3 separate regions of the Homo sapiens genome follow, and regions 1 and 3 are each linked to region 2. The links come from fine-mapping of genetic effects on gene expression. A gene starts in region 2. Each other region holds a variant in brackets. All regions are shown on one strand. Distances are between the middles of the regions.

Region 1 (4,883 bases), 99 kb after region 2:
CTCTGGGTGCTGCCTGATGCCATTTAGTCTGGAAACCCCATGGCGGGAAGCTTGGCTCCCAGCATTCCTGCCGGGGCCCAGCCCCACCATCCTTTCAGACTTGACCCCCTCCTGGGCACACCCTCATCCCAGGAAGAGCTCAGGTCACTTTAGGACCATCTGATGGACAGGGAGAGGGGCTCTGGCACAGCACTTGCTCATTCCAGGAGGGCTCCCTGGGGGAAGAGTCTAGGTGAGCTGTGGAGGGGAGAAGATGCTGGTGAGGCCTGACCAGTGGTGGCTGGGTGTGAGGGGCCTCAAGTGGGGACACCAGCAGGGTGTGGGGATGGGGGCCATTGCCACGGCAGGCCCTGCTCCTGGGCCTCTGCCCCTTGGTGCAGGGAAGCCACGCCTGTGATGGTGAGGCCCCACTGCGTGGAGTCTAGGGGGCCTCTGTGCCCTGCGCGATGCTGCCTGCCTGCCCACCCCAGGTGTGGTAACAGCCCTCACAAGAATTGGTGAGGTGTGGACTGCTGCTGCCTCTCAGCCACCTACAGGGAGTCCGCATTCCATCACCGCGTGGAGCTGCCCTGCCATGAACCACATCAATACCTGGCTCCCAGGCACTTCCTGCGTAGTGGTCCCCAGGGGTCAGCCCCCACTGCTGACTCAGGCAGGCCACACTCTTGAGAGGTCAGGGAGAAGGTCAAAGCAGGGCCTCATAGAGCAAATGACCCTTGAGGCAGTGGGAGTGGCGCCTCAAGTGGGAGGCGGAGGGAGGCCCATAGCCCTAGGGGTGAGCCCCATAGCCCTAGGGGTGGAGGGTGGGACAATCCCATGCTGCCGCAGCAAGGTGGGTAGCAGGAGTAGGGGGGGAATGTTGGGGACAAGAGAGGATGCCTGGAGGTCAGTGGGCTCTCTGAAGCTGATGAGCAGCTTGCCTTCCACCCTACAGGCACCTTGGCCATGGGCTACCGTGTGCAGCCCCCAAGCTGGGAGGCTGGGAGAGGCACCAGATGGGCAGCAGGGAGCAGGACCCATGATGACAGCAATGCCCAGGAGGTGGAGGTGGAGATGTGTTGGGAGGGAGGGTGCATCCAGGGAGCTGCTTGCTGAAGGTGGAGGGGCTGGGTGCTTGTGGTCACGTCTGTGAGAACAGACACTCAGTAGGAGGGGAGCCAGCCTCCCTGCCCAGGGTTGCAGGTGCTCAGCCTACCCGAGTCGTGCTGCCCACCAACCTCTGTCACTGTGGTTCTCTCCCACAACCTGCCACCCCTTCAGGGGTCCCAGGTGGGGGCAGGGAAGGAGGCTGACTGCACCTCGAGCTGCCCTGGTAAACTGCCTGCCTCTCCTCTCCTGCCAAACTCGGGGGTACAGTGTTGTCCTCATGGACACGCATAACACAAAGCCCCTTTCTTTCCCGGATACCACCTCTTTATCCTCTCATCATACAAATGAGAAAACAGACGTGGAGCTTCCTACAGGGCACCTGTGAGCTAATGAGTGTCTCCATTAGTAAATAGGGGGTGGTGGTAGCAAATAGCCCACCCCACTGGCTGTGCACCCCACGCTACCCAGGCAGCTCCCTGCTATCGGGGAAGCCCAGCTCCGTCTCTGTCACTCTGCTGCCTGTTTCCTCTGCTCCTGGGCTATTATCTGGGCTGGCTGAGGCCAAGCAAGGCCTCTAGAGGAAGTGTCCCCTCCAAGGTCTGTTGCCACTGGCTGGGCCTCTAGGAAGGGTTGAGAGGGCTTCCAGGGCTGGGGTGGCCCTCTAGGACAGCCTGGTGTGGGTGGCGGTGGGGCTGTGGCCTCAGTGGCCCTGACTGCTGAGCATGTGGCTGAGCTTGCTGGAGTGAGGACGTCCTTGGGTGGGGGCACGGAGGACTGGCCCTGGAAGCTGCTCCAGGCCCTGGAGGGCCCAAGA[T/C]TAAACAGCACCTGGCAAGAGAACCTTGCATAGCTGTCTCCAGGTTGGACAGGTGGGGCTTCAGGCCTGGAGATAAGGGCAGACCAGGCCACGGTGTCCTGGACCAGAGAGCCCTGGACATCTGGGCTGCACCTGGCAGAGCTGTGCGTGTGGCCTTCCTGGGCTCTTGGTGGCCGAAAGACCAATGTTAAAAAACATAACAGGCCAGGCGGGGTGGCTTACACCTGTAATCCCAGCACCGTGGGAGGCCAAGGCGGGTGGATCATTTTAGGTCAGGAGTTTGAGACTAGCCTGGCCAACATGGAGAAATCCCATATCTACTAAAAATACAAAAATTACTTGGGCATGGTGGCGCATGTCTGTAATCCCGGCTACTGGGGAGGGAGGCTGAGGCAGGAGAATTGCTTGAACCTGGGAGGTGGAGGTTGCAGTGAGCCGAGATCGTGCCACTGCATGCCAGCCTGGGAGACAGAGCAGGAGTCTGTCTCAAAAAAAAAAAAAAAAAAAAAAAAAAGAAAAGAAGCTGAAACATCCACCCAACAACACATGCCCCAGTGAAACTCACTTGCCTGTCCTAGCATGCCCAAGGCCATAGCAACTGAGACCAGAAGGCCAAGGGTGTTACTCAGCATCAGTGGTTCTGGGCCTTCCTGGGTCTAGAGTCCCTTTGAAACGCAGCTGAACAGACCCCAACATGAGCCTGAAGAGTGTTGACCTAAAAGGAAGAAGCCTAGGCAAAATTAATATCAGCGGAGACTTTATTTGGGCCAAGCTTGAGGATTGCATCCCAGGAGCACAGATTCAAGTTGCCCTGAATATACACTCCGATTAGCAGAAGTTGAAATGGATTTTAAAAGGACAAGAGAGCTCCTGAGTTGTTTACTAAGAATTTACATTAAAATAACAAACTGGCTGGCTGCAGTGGCTCAGGCCTGTAATCCCGGTTCCTCTGGCAGCTGAGGTGGAAGCATTGATTCAGGCCAGTTTGAGACCAGCTTGGACAACATAGCAAGACACCGTCCCTACAAAATAAATAAATAAATAAATAAGTAAATATATAAATAAGTTGTCGTAGTGCATGCCTGTGGTCGTAGCTACTCAGGAGGCTGAGGCGGGAGGATCGCTTGACACCAGGAGTTGGTGACTAACTACAGTTAGTGAGCTATAATCGTGCCACTACCCTCCAGCCTGGGTGACAGAGCGAGACCTTGTCTCTAAAAAAATAAAAATAGGCCGGGTGTGGTGGCTCACACCTATAATCCCAGCACTTTGGGAGGCTGAGGTGGGCGGATCACCTGAGGTCGGGAGTTCGAGACCAGCCTAACCAACATGGAGAAACCCCGTCTCTACTAAAAATACAAAATTAGCCAGGTGTGGTGGCTCATGCCTGTAATCCCAGCTACTCGGGCGGCTGAGGCAGAAGAATCACTTGAACCTGGGAGGCGGAGGTTTTGGTGAGCCAAGATCTCACCACTGCACTCCAGCCTGGGCAACAAGAGCCAAACTCTGTCTCAAAAAAAAAAAAACCCAAAACAAAAACAACTAAATAAAAATAAATTAGTGACACCCCGTCTCTACCAAAAAAATAAAATAATTGGGTGGGTGTGGTAGCACGTGCCTATAGTTCGAGCTACTCCAGAGGCTGAGTTGGGAAAATCACTTGAGCCCAGGAGGCCAAGACTGCAGTGAGTTATGATTATGCCACTGCACTCCAGCCTGGGTAATAGAGCAAGACCCTGCCTCAAAAAAAAAAAAAAAAAAAAAAGGCTCAATAAAAGGTTATTTGAAAGATAAAAATCAGGCCAGGCATGGTGGCTCACGCCTGTAATCCTAGCACTTTGGGAGGCTGAGGTGGGCGGATCACCTGAGGTCAGGAGTTTGAGACCAGCCTGGCCAACATGGTGAAACCCCATCTCTACTAAAAATACAAAATTAGCCAGGCATGGTGGTGCCATGCCTGTAGTCCCAGCTACTTGGGAGGCTGAGACAGGAGAATTACTTGAACCTGGGAGGCAGAGGTTGCAGTGAGTCGAGATCACGCCATTGCACTCCAACCTGGGCAACAGAATGAGTCTCACCACAACCTCCGCTTCCCGGGTTCAAGCGATTCTTGTGCCTCAGCCTCCTGAGTAACTGGGACTACAGGCGCGTGCCACCATGCCCGGCTACTTTTTGTATTTTTTAGTAGAGATGGGGTTTCATTATGTTGGCCAGGCTGGTCTTGAACTCCTGGCCTCGTGATCTGCCCGCCTCAGCCTCACAAAGTGCTGGGATTATACGTGTGAGCCACCGCGCCTGGCCTATCGGGGGAGTTTTCAATAGGCCCTAAGGGAGTCAAGTCTGGGTTTCTGAGACAAAGAAAAGGTTGGAGGGGTCCTGGTGTTCCTGGCCTAGATCAGGCTTGGGCTGCAGCCATGAAGGTGCTGTGATCAGGGGCAGTGGAGGCTGCTGGCCCCAAAGGGACACACTCTACTGGGCGTGGTTGGGGTTTGGTGACACAGGCATTGAGAAGTGACAGCAGATAGTGCAAAGTGTGCATGGGTATAACTTCTGGAGAAGTTCAGGTAACATCTATGCGAAGGCACAGATTCTTGGTGTTAACGAGCATGCATATTGGCCTGCCATGTGATTATATTTGTATCATCAACTCGCACTCCTGGAGTTGGGAATCATGTCTTTTTACTTAACACAGGTAAGGAGCCCTGCTCAGGGTGGGAAACACAGATAATACTTAACACGTTTTGGGAAGGAGTAAAGAAGTGAAGGCCAGGCGTGGTAGCTCACGCCTGTAATCCCAGCACTTTGGGAGGCAGAGGTGAGCGGATCACCTGAGGTCCGGAGTTCGAGCCCAGCCTGACCAACATGGAGAAACCCCGTCTCTACTAAAAATACAAAATTAGCAGGGCGTGGTGGTGCATGCTTGTAATCCCAGCTACTCAGGAGGCTGAGGCAGGAGAATCGCTTGAACCTGGGAGGTGGA
Region 2 (5,004 bases):
TTCAGGTGGCCATCGAGTTTGATGAACACATCAATGTGGCCTTCAGCTGCGTGTCTGCCAGCTGCCGAATTGTACACGAGTATATCGGGGGCTACATTTTCCTGTCGACGCGGGAGCGGGCCCGTGGGGAGGAGCTGGATGAAGACCTCTTCCTGCAGCTCACCGGGGGCCATGAGGCCTTCTGAGGGCTGTCTGATTGCCCCTGCCCTGCTCACCACCCTGTCACAGCCACTCCCAAGCCCACACCCACAGGGGCTCACTGCCCCACACCCGCTCCAGGCAGGCACCCAGCTGGGCATTTCACCTGCTGTCACTGACTTTGTGCAGGCCAAGGACCTGGCAGGGCCAGACGCTGTACCATCACCCAGGCCAGGGATGGGGGTGGGGGTCCCTGAGCTCATGTGGTGCCCCCTTTCCTTGTCTGAGTGGCTGAGGCTGATACCCCTGACCTATCTGCAGTCCCCCAGCACACAAGGAAGACCAGATGTAGCTACAGGATGATGAAACATGGTTTCAAACGAGTTCTTTCTTGTTACTTTTTAAAATTTCTTTTTTATAAATTAATATTTTATTGTTGGATCCTCCTCCTTTCTCTGGAGCTGTGCTTGGGGCTACTCTGACACTCTGTCTCTTCATCACCAGCCAAGGAAAGGGGCTTTCCTGATAAAGACAAGAGTTGGTTAGAGAAAGGGACACCTAAGTCAGTCTAGGGTTGGAAGCTAGGAGAGAGGTGAGGGCAGAAGGGCACAGCTTTCAGGAACAAGGAATAGGGGCTGGGGTGGTGGTTCTCACGGGTAGGGCGTAGCTGCAGGGCCTCCTTGAAGTACTTGGGAAGGAGGAAGCCATCAGTATTCCCTGGAGTCAGAATCACCCCATTGGCAGAGCGGAAGAAGGGTATTCCATCTGCTGACAGAGCCAGAGATGTGACTCATGCCCTCCCCGAAGGCAAGGGCAGCTCCTGCTTTGTCCAGACTCACCTGCCAGAGCCAGGGGTCCATCGATGAACACAGCTATTTCACAATGGGACCGCATGCCTGCAGAGACAGCTGGAGCTGAGGCCTGGGCACCTGGAGTGCAGTCAGCAACCTAGGCAGACTGGGGTCCTGGGCTGGGGGATGCAGGGGTGCTGCTCCATGCCGGACATGGGGTGGCCCCAGACAAGTGTTGTAACCTTTGAAGGGGACCTGGGAGGACAGAGTGGGTGGGAGTAGCTAGGTGGAGGGGAGGGCACTGACCACTGATGATACCGGGGTCTCCAGGCAGTCCTGGGGCCAGGTGAATGTGCGTCCTTCCCTGGCAGGACAGGCCTTTGAGTAGGATGGATGGCCAGTGCTTCCAGAATGTACCATGGACTAGCATCGGGGGCAGGGCCTGCGGTGTCTCCAGGGGCATCAGCTCCAACTTAGGTACCTGGTTGAACGGGTAGCAGTGAGACCCCCTTCGCAGGCAGGGGTCCCTCCCATCTCGTCTCGCACTTGTCCCCTCACCCCGACCTGCAGGGAATGGCCCTGGTTGGCCCGGATGAGAAGGCCAGTGCTGGGATCCCCCAGCTGCAGGGCGAACCGCTGCTTCCTATTGGTGTCCACCACGCGCTGCACATCTTCAGCAGAGAAGCCGCGGAACTGGGGCAACTGCAGGAGGGTGCCCAGGGGCACGAAGCCATCTGTGGGCAGGCAGGGTGCTCAGGAGCTAACCTTGCTCTGGACTGGGCCAGGGTTAACAGGGAGCCACAGGCAACCGAAACAAAGTCTGGGCTTGGAGATCGCTTGGGCATCCTCTGTGGGACCTTTAGAAAGTCTCCCCTTTCTGGGCCGCAGTTTTTTCAACTTACATAAAAAGAGGATCTGCCTCACGGAGGGGCAGGGAGGTGAGTGCCCAGCATAGCGCTGGCCCGGAGTGCACACTCACACCACCAGCTGCACCGTATCCTCCAGGGCTCGCCCTCGGGGTAAGTGCTGATCTGGCTGCTTGGCTGGAGGGGGCGGTCACCAGGCCTGGCCCAGACAAGAACTCTCCTCAGTCTGCTGTGGACATGACAGGGGCTCTAGGCCTTGCTCTCCTCTGTGCATGGGGAGGAAGTGCACTCTGTGCCTTCCTCAGGGAGCGGTGGAGGCAGCCATCAGGGAGGAGTCGCAGACAGGCTCACGTTTCTCTCTGGGCTCAAGCCCCAGCCTCCAAGGCCCCTACTTACCAGCTCCCATGGGAAGCCCCAGCTTCAAGGCCCCATGGCGCAGGGCATAGGACAGAGCCTTGGACAGCTGCACGTCTCGGTCCTGAAAGAACCCAGCGGTGGCCCCTAGTCTCCATGGTGACCCTGCCCTACTGCCCATCCTGAACCCTCAATGACCCACTGCAGAGAGAGCCCAGAGAGAAAGGAGTGCCAGTGGTCTCCAGGAATAGTAGGACCCTTCAGCTCCGCCCCCCAGCAACTCCCAGGGAGCCTGGACTGGTGGGAGGGGGTGGGGAGGAGGCGCGCACCTGTTCTCGGGGTCTGGGAGCCCTTCTACCCCTGGACCCTGCTGCTTCCTGCCTCCCTCCTCCAGAGAAGTTCATGGTTAAGACCTGTGGGGGGCAGTGACGAGGGGGGACTGCTTTAAGGCCCCTTCCACGTCCCCATCCCTCCCAGAAAGTCACAAAGCCTCAGGAAGTGAGCGCTGGGTGGGAGTATACGGCTCATTAAGTTCACCACCCCCAAGTCCCTGCTGCAGAGAGGGAAACTAAGGCCCAGCAGGCCAGACTTGCCCAAGGTCACACGGTCAGCCAGGAGCGCAGGGAGGCCGAGCCCCGCACCCCAGATCGCTGGTGCGCCCCGCAGGGTGGTCCGGGAGGCAGGGCCGACGTGCCGACGGACCGGGCGGAAGCGTCGGGGCGGCGGGGACAAACCTCCAGGATCCTCGACCGCGGCGGACCCGCCAATGAAAAGCCGCGTGGAAAGGGGGCGGGCACTTCCGCTTCGGGGAAGGGGCGGAGCCTGAGGGACCCGGCGGCTGGTGAGCGCCCGCTGGAGGCTGGAGCTTCCGGGCCCTGGAAAGGGGTCCCCGCGCGCCCCGGGTCGGAGGCAGACCCCTGGGTTTGGGGGACATGGGCATTTGGGGCGCCTGAACCCAAGACCTCTGGATGGTAGGGATGCCCGGGCGTCCTGGATACCCTGCGGGACTCGGGGCTCCTGCGGGGAAGATGGCACGTTTTACTGCCCAAGGAGTGGTCAGGGGGGTGGAGAAGCGCTGCGGATACCCTCAGGAGGTCTGCGACAGAGGGGGCTAGCTGCGCAGCCCAGGAGTGGTAGTGGCCCCCCTGGATGACAGGCCTGGCCGTATCCTCCCCCAGAGCTGCCCCGTTCAGACCATGGATCCTGAGGTGACCTTGCTGCTGCAGTGCCCTGGCGGGGGCCTGCCCCAGGAGCAGATACAGGCCGAGCTGAGCCCCGCCCATGACCGTCGCCCACTGCCAGGTGGGGACGAGGCCATCACTGCCATCTGGGAGACCCGGCTAAAGGCCCAACCCTGGCTCTTCGACGCCCCCAAGTTCCGCCTGCACTCAGCCACCCTGGCGCCTATTGGCTCTCGGGGGCCACAGCTGCTCCTGCGCCTGGGCCTTACTTCCTACCGAGACTTCCTGGGCACCAACTGGTCCAGCTCAGCTGCCTGGCTGCGACAGCAGGGTGCCACCGACTGGGGTGACACGCAGGCCTATCTGGCGGACCCACTGGGGGTGGGCGCTGCACTAGCCACAGCCGATGACTTCCTTGTCTTCCTGCGCCGCTCCCGGCAGGTGGCTGAGGCCCCTGGGCTGGTGGACGTACCTGGTGGGCACCCTGAGCCTCAGGTGAGATTCCAGGCTGGGCACAAAGACCCAGACAGCTCAAGGGAGCTGCAGCTCTCCACCCTCCCAATCCTCCCAGCTTTGGTTTCCTCATTCCTTAAAGGGAAAATTGGCCTGGTATTTCTCTGGAAGTTTGCTCAGGGCAGTCCACCTGCCTCCCCACTGACCCCTGCCCCAGTCCTGTGAGAAACTAGAAAACACGGGAGGAAAGATTGGGCACAGGAAGAAGATGCCCTACTCCACCCCTGCCCCCTGTGTATCTCCTTTGAAGCTGGACCTCTGGTTGTCTGTCAGGGAAAGGACACCAGACTCAGGATCACTAACTCTCTTACACTGTGCCACATCAGACCCTCAAGGCCAGCAGGTATAGGCTTGCTGGTCCTGAGATGGGGCAGGGGGAAGAGGTGGGGAGCAGGGGCTGAGCCTGACCTCTCACAGGCCCTGTGCCCTGGTGGCAGCCCCCAGCACCAGGACCTCGCTGGGCAGCTGGTGGTACATGAACTCTTTTCCAGTGTCCTTCAGGAGATCTGTGATGAGGTGAGTGAGGTTGACCTGGACAGGGTGGTAGACATGAAGGGAGGGGGTAGGACTTGCCAGAATTCTACAGGTCTGGGCTGGCAGGAGGCCTGCAGGCATCTGGCCAGCAATGAGGGAAGAAGTTGGCTTTGCAGCTATACATACTTGGAGTGGAATTCTAGCCCTCAGTACCCTCTGCCTTGGATTCTTCTTCTTTTCTTTTTTCTTTCTTTTTTTTTTTTTAGACAGAGTCTCGCTCTGTTGCCCAGGCTGGAATGCAGTGGCACGATCTCTGCTCACTGCAAGCTCCACCTCCCGGGTTCACGCCATTCTCCTACCTCAGCCTCCTGAGTAGCTGGGACTACAGGCATCCGCCACCATGCCTGGCTAATTTTTTTTGTATTTTTAGTAGAGATGGGGTTTCACCTTGTTAGCCAGGATGGTCTTGATCTCCTGACCTCGTGATCTGCCTGCCTCAGCCTCCAAAAGTGCTGGGATTACAGGTGTGAGCCACTGCACCAGGCCGGATTCTTCTTCTTTTTTTTTTTTTTCTTTTTGAGACAGAGTCTTGCTCTGTTGCCCAGGCTAGTGCAGTGGTGGCATATCGGCTCACTGCAACCTTCGCCTCCTGGGTTCAAGTGATTCTCATGCCTTGCCCCGCCAAGG
Region 3 (5,004 bases), 49 kb before region 2:
TGACAACCCAACTGGGGTTGGGGGTCCAAGGTGGTCTCACTCACATGACTGATGGTTGGTGCTGGCTGTCAGCTGAGGCCCCTTGGCTCTGCTCCACATGGTCTCACCTTTCAAGGTGGCAGAGCCAGCCAGAGGAGCAGATACACCACCACAGCAGGGCTGAAGTTGCAGTGACATTCAGGACCACAGTACAGTTAGGGTTTTCCTGCTACTGGTCTGAGATTTAAGACCAGAGCAGGACCCAGGAGAATTCTACCATATCTAAAGGGATCCCCAGATCCACTCCTCTCCCCTGGGACTTAATGATAAAGTCTGATGCATCACTGTTTCCTGAGAGTCTTAAGTGGCAGCCCTCCCCCATTTTTACCCTGCCATCTTTCTACTTTTTATAGCCTCATTTGGGTAGATAAGCGTCCGTCCCTCCAGCTCTCAGGTCCTCCTGTCGTCTTCTCTGATGACAATTTTGCATTCCACCCTCATCCAGGTTGTACTACTGTCTTCATATCTCACTTTATTACTTGCCTATGTTTCATTTTACTATCCGTTTCATTGGCCATATTGTACAGTCATTATGTTGAGAGGTATATAAGGGAAGGATGGATTACAAGGTATTAAATGTCCAGAGCTTGCAGCTATAAACCAGGAGCCTGGAAAACAGAGGATGCCCCTCCACCTGATTTTTTTTTTTTTTTTGAGATGGAGTCTTACTCTGTTGGCCAGGCTGGAGTGCAGTGGTACGATCCTGGTCCACTGCAACCTCCGCCTCCCAGGTTCAAGTGATTCTCCTGCCTCAGCCTCCCGAGTAGCTGGGACTACAGGCGCGTGCCACCACGCCCAGCTAACTTTTATATTTTTGTAGAGACGAGGTTTTGCAATGTCGGCCAGCCTGGTCTCGAACTCCTGACTTCAGGTGATCCACCCACGTTGCCCTCCCAAAGTGCTGGGATTACAGACGTGAGCCACCGTGCCCAGCCTCTATGTGACGTTTGGCAGACTGATCTGAAGACCATGTCGGCTGTCTGGGAAAGTCCTCAGTGATCTTGAGAGGGCCAGACAGATACTGAGTGTTCTTATCCCACGCCACCCTCCCCAGGGGAAGGGCCTTAGTGGGCCAGGGGGTTTCGTTCCTGGAGCCAGCAGAGGGAGGGCTTCAGCTGCCCCTACTCTGACTTCAGAGAAGGCCCAGGAGGGAGGTAGATGCTTCAGGGACATTTGGATTGAAGTGCACAAAATCCTTTAAAAGTAATGTTTATTGTAATAGATTTTAACAACATAGAAATAAAGTAAAAAGTGAAAGCCAGCAGGGTGCTGTGGCTCAGGCCTGGAATCACAGTACTTTAGGAGGCCAAGGCAGGAGGATCGCTTGAGCCTGGAAGTTCAAGACCAGCCTGGGAAACATAGTAGGACCCTGACTCCACAAAAAATATTGGCCGGGCGCGGTGGCTCACGCCTGTAATCCCAGCACCTTGGGAAGCTGAGGCGGGCAGACCATCTGAGGTCGGGAGTTCGAGAGCAGCCTGACCAACATGGAGAAACCCCGTCTCTACTAAAAATACAAAATTAGCCGGTCATGGTGGTGCATGCCTGTAATCCCAGCTACTTGGGAGGCTGAGGCAGGAGAATTCTTGAACCCGGAAGGCAGAGGTTGTGGTGAGCCAAGATCACGCTATTGCACTCTAGCCTGGGCAAAGATAGCTAAACTCCGTCTAAAAAAAATGAAAGTAAAAATATTAGCTGGGCGTGCTGGTGCACCTGTAGCCCCAGCTAATCTGGGGGCTGAGGCTGGAGAATCACTTGAACCCAGGAGTTCAAGAGTAGCCTGGGCAACATAGTGAGACCCTGTTTCTACAAAAAAAAAAAAAGTGAAAGCCCTTGTTATGGGCTGAATCATGTCTGCCTGAATTCCTATGTTGAAGCCCTAACCCCCAGTAGCTCAGAATGTGACTGTATTTGCATATAGGGCCTTTAAAGGGGTAATTAAGGCTGGGTGCAGTGGCTCACACCTATAATCCCATCACTTTGGGAGGCCGAGGCAGGTGTATCACCTGAGGTCAGGAGTTTGAGACCAGCCTGACCAACATGAAGAAACCCTGTCTCTACTAAAAAATACAAAAATTAGCTTGGTGTGGTGGTACACGCCTGTAATTCCAGCTACTTGGGAGGCTAAGGCTGGAGAATCACTTGAACCCGGGAGACAGAGGTTGCAGTGAGCTGAGATCGCGCCACTGCACTCAAGCCTGGGTGACAGAGCGAGACTCTGTCTCAAAAAAAGAAAGAAAAAAAAAGAGGTAATTAAGTTAAAATCAGGCCATTAGGGTGAGCCCTACTCCAGTCTGACTGGTGTCTTTTTTTTTTTTGAGATAGAGTCTTGCTCTGTTGCCCAGACTGGAGTGCAGTAGCATGATCTCAGCTGACTGCAACCTCTGCCTCCCAGGTTCAAGCAATTCTCCTGCCTCAGCCTCCCGAGTGGCTGGGACTACAGGCGCCTGCCACCACGCCCGGCTAATTTTTGTATTTTTAGTAGACACGGGATTTCACCATGTTGGCCAGGCTGGTCTCCAACTCCTGACCTCAAGTAATCCACCCGCCTCAACCTCCCAAAGTGCAGGGATTACAGGTATGAGCCACTGCGCCTGGCCTGACTGATATCCTTTTAAGAGGAAAGTTCGGGGCTGGGCGCAGTGGCTCACACCTGTAATCTCAACACTTTGGGAGGCCGAGATGGGTGGATCACTTGAGGTCAGGAGTTTGAGACCAGCCTGGCCAATATGGTGAAATCCCATCTCTATTAAAAATACAAAAATTAGCCAGGCATGGTGGCACATGCCTGTAATCCCAGCTACTCGGGAGGCTGAAGCGGGGGAATCACTTGAGCCCAGGAAGTGGAGGTTGCAGTGAGCTGAGATCACGCCACTGTACTCCAGTCTGGGTGGACTCCATCAGAAAAAAAAGGGG[TG/T]GGGGGGGGCGGAAAGTTGGACACACAAAGAGACATTAAGGATGCTGGAGTGCAGAGGAGGGACCACGTGAGGATGCAGGAAGAAGGCAGCCATCTGCAAGCCACGGGGAGAGGCCTCGGAGGAAACCACACCTGCTGATGCCTTGAACCTGGGCTTGCAGCCTCCAGAACTGTAAGAAAATACATTTCTGTTGTTTAAGCCACCCCATCTGTGGCATTCTGTTATGACAGCCCCAGCAAACTATCACAGCACACCGCCTCCCTGTTCCCAGTCCACAGAGGTAATTCCTGTAGCCACTGGCTGCGTATCGTAGATTTTTTCCCTGCATGTATAATCATATGTGAAGAGATACACACATAATTTTATTTTTACAAAAATAGGATTCAGCCATACACACTGTTCCACAACTACTATGCTTTTTTTTTTTTTTTTTTTTTTTAACTCACAACACTTCTGACACCAAATGTGTGGGTTTTTTTTTCCCACATCGACCAACTCTCCAACACCATCTGGGTGTCCTACAATTGAATCCATTCTGATACTATCAACCTGGAGTTGGCATCAGCTCCCACACGTTAAGGGCCCAGTCCCACAAGACTACCCCCACTTCAAACTCCAGGAGCAAGTCCTGGGTCCCCCATACTTCTGACATATGAATTGGGGGTTCCCATGACCCCCTCCTCAGGTTCAATAATTTGCTAGAACAGCTCACAGGAAAACAGTTTACTTTTTTTTTTTTTTTTTTTGAGACAGAGTGTCTCTGTCTGGAGTGCAGGAGTGCAGTGGTGCTCGCTGCAGCCTTGAACTCCTGGGCTCAAGCGATCCTCCAGCCTCAGCCTCCCAAGTAGCTGGGAGTACAGGCATGTGCCACTGCACCCAGCCTAACTTACTATTGCCGGTTTATCATAAAGGATAGAAGTTCAGGAACAGCCAGATGGAAGAGATGCATAGGACAAGGTGTGGAAGGCAGGATGCAGAGCCTCCAAGTGCTCTCTGATCACTCCACCCTCCCAGCACCTCCATGTGTTCTTCTCTGAACCCTGTCATTTAGTTGTTTTTTTTTTTTTTGAGATGGAGTTTTGCTCTGTCACCCAGGCTGGAGTGCAGTGGTGCAATCTTGGCTCACTGCAACCCCTGCCTCCCGCCCAGGTCAAGCGATTCTCCTGCCTCAGCCTCCTGAGCAGCTGGGGCTACAGGCGTGTGTCACCACATCCAGCTAATTTTTTGTATTTTTAGTAGAGACGGGGTTTCACCGTGTTAGCCAGGCTGGTCTTGAACTCCTGACCTCAGGTGATCCATCCGCCTCAGCCTCCTAAAGTGCTGGGATTACAGGCGTGAGCCACTATATCCGGCCTCATTTAGGAGTGTTAGGGCGGCTTCATTATACAGGTATAATTGATTAATTCTTGACCACTGGTAATTAACTCAATGTCCACCCCATCTCCCCTCCCCAGGGTTTGAACCCTCTAATCATTTACTGGGTTCCCCTTCTCCTGGCTACCACCCTCATGCGCCAAGAGTCACCTCATTAGCATAAATTTATGGTTGAAAGGGGCTCATTATGAGTAACAAAAGATGCTCCTCTCCCACCATCACTCAAGAAATTACAAGTGTTTCAGGAGCTCTGTGCCAGGAACTGGAAGTGAAACCCAAATATGCATACTTATATTCACAATATCACAACCACTAACTTTTTTCATTCTACCATATGTCCTTGCCATGTCAATATCTACCCAAATGTTGTTTCTTCACACTTGCCAATATCCCATCCTATGGAGGCAGCATCGTGTTTTCCAGTGTCCTCCATAGTTGGACTCAGGTGGTTTCCATCCCTTTTGCTGTCCCAGACAGTGCTGTGTGAGACGTCCTGTGCCACCAGGGTAGGGTCCCTGCGGGAGACATTCCTAAGAGCAGAATCACTTTTGTGTTTTCAATAGCTATTGCTAAGCGTACCTTCCTACGGGCGGTGTAGAAGAGGCACGTATCCCACCCACGTCCACACAGGCACACTCTCTACCACTTGGTATTTCTCAACAGAGGTGCTGGG

Evidence for each region. PIP is the estimated chance that this variant, and not a neighbour inherited with it, causes the effect.
Region 1: its variant is the best candidate, but not a certain one, in a credible set for the expression of TRPT1 in lung (TOPMed, PIP 0.80).
Region 3: its variant is the best candidate, but not a certain one, in a credible set for the expression of TRPT1 in fibroblasts (GENCORD, PIP 0.65).

The regions. Positions count from the first base shown.
Region 1 is chr11:64,322,407-64,327,289 of GRCh38, forward strand. LOC102723878 (a long non-coding RNA gene) reads right to left here. Exons shown (of 4, transcript NR_188518.1): 4 at 2,644-2,925. Among named protein-coding and RNA genes, the nearest start is that of PRDX5, 6.7 kb to the left of the region's middle. RefSeq lists a silencer at 2,934-3,086. The variant T/C (reference allele first, on the strand shown) is at 1,904.
Region 2 is chr11:64,223,308-64,228,311 of GRCh38, forward strand. It overlaps TRPT1 (tRNA phosphotransferase 1), which reads right to left and starts at 2,879. Exons shown (of 8, transcript NM_001033678.4): 1 at 2,743-2,879; 2 at 2,479-2,562; 3 at 2,192-2,273; 4 at 1,494-1,663; 5 at 1,236-1,410; 6 at 978-1,034; 7 at 793-903; 8 at 509-660. The coding sequence starts at 2,553. The coding sequence ends at 569. NUDT22 (nudix hydrolase 22) reads left to right here and starts at 2,967. Exons shown (of 6, transcript NM_032344.4): 1 at 2,967-3,120; 2 at 3,328-3,825; 3 at 4,261-4,359. The coding sequence starts at 3,346. It overlaps FERMT3 (FERM domain containing kindlin 3), which reads left to right. Exons shown (of 15, transcript NM_031471.6): 15 at 6-584. The coding sequence ends at 185. RefSeq lists enhancers at 1,543-1,602, 1,785-2,507, 3,108-3,627, 3,628-4,145 and a silencer at 2,673-3,082.
Region 3 is chr11:64,173,870-64,178,873 of GRCh38, forward strand. LOC124902686 (a long non-coding RNA gene) reads right to left here. Exons shown (of 2, transcript XR_007062712.1): 2 at 1,233-3,126. Among named protein-coding and RNA genes, the nearest start is that of STIP1, 9.8 kb to the right of the region's middle. The variant TG/T (reference allele first, on the strand shown) is at 2,956.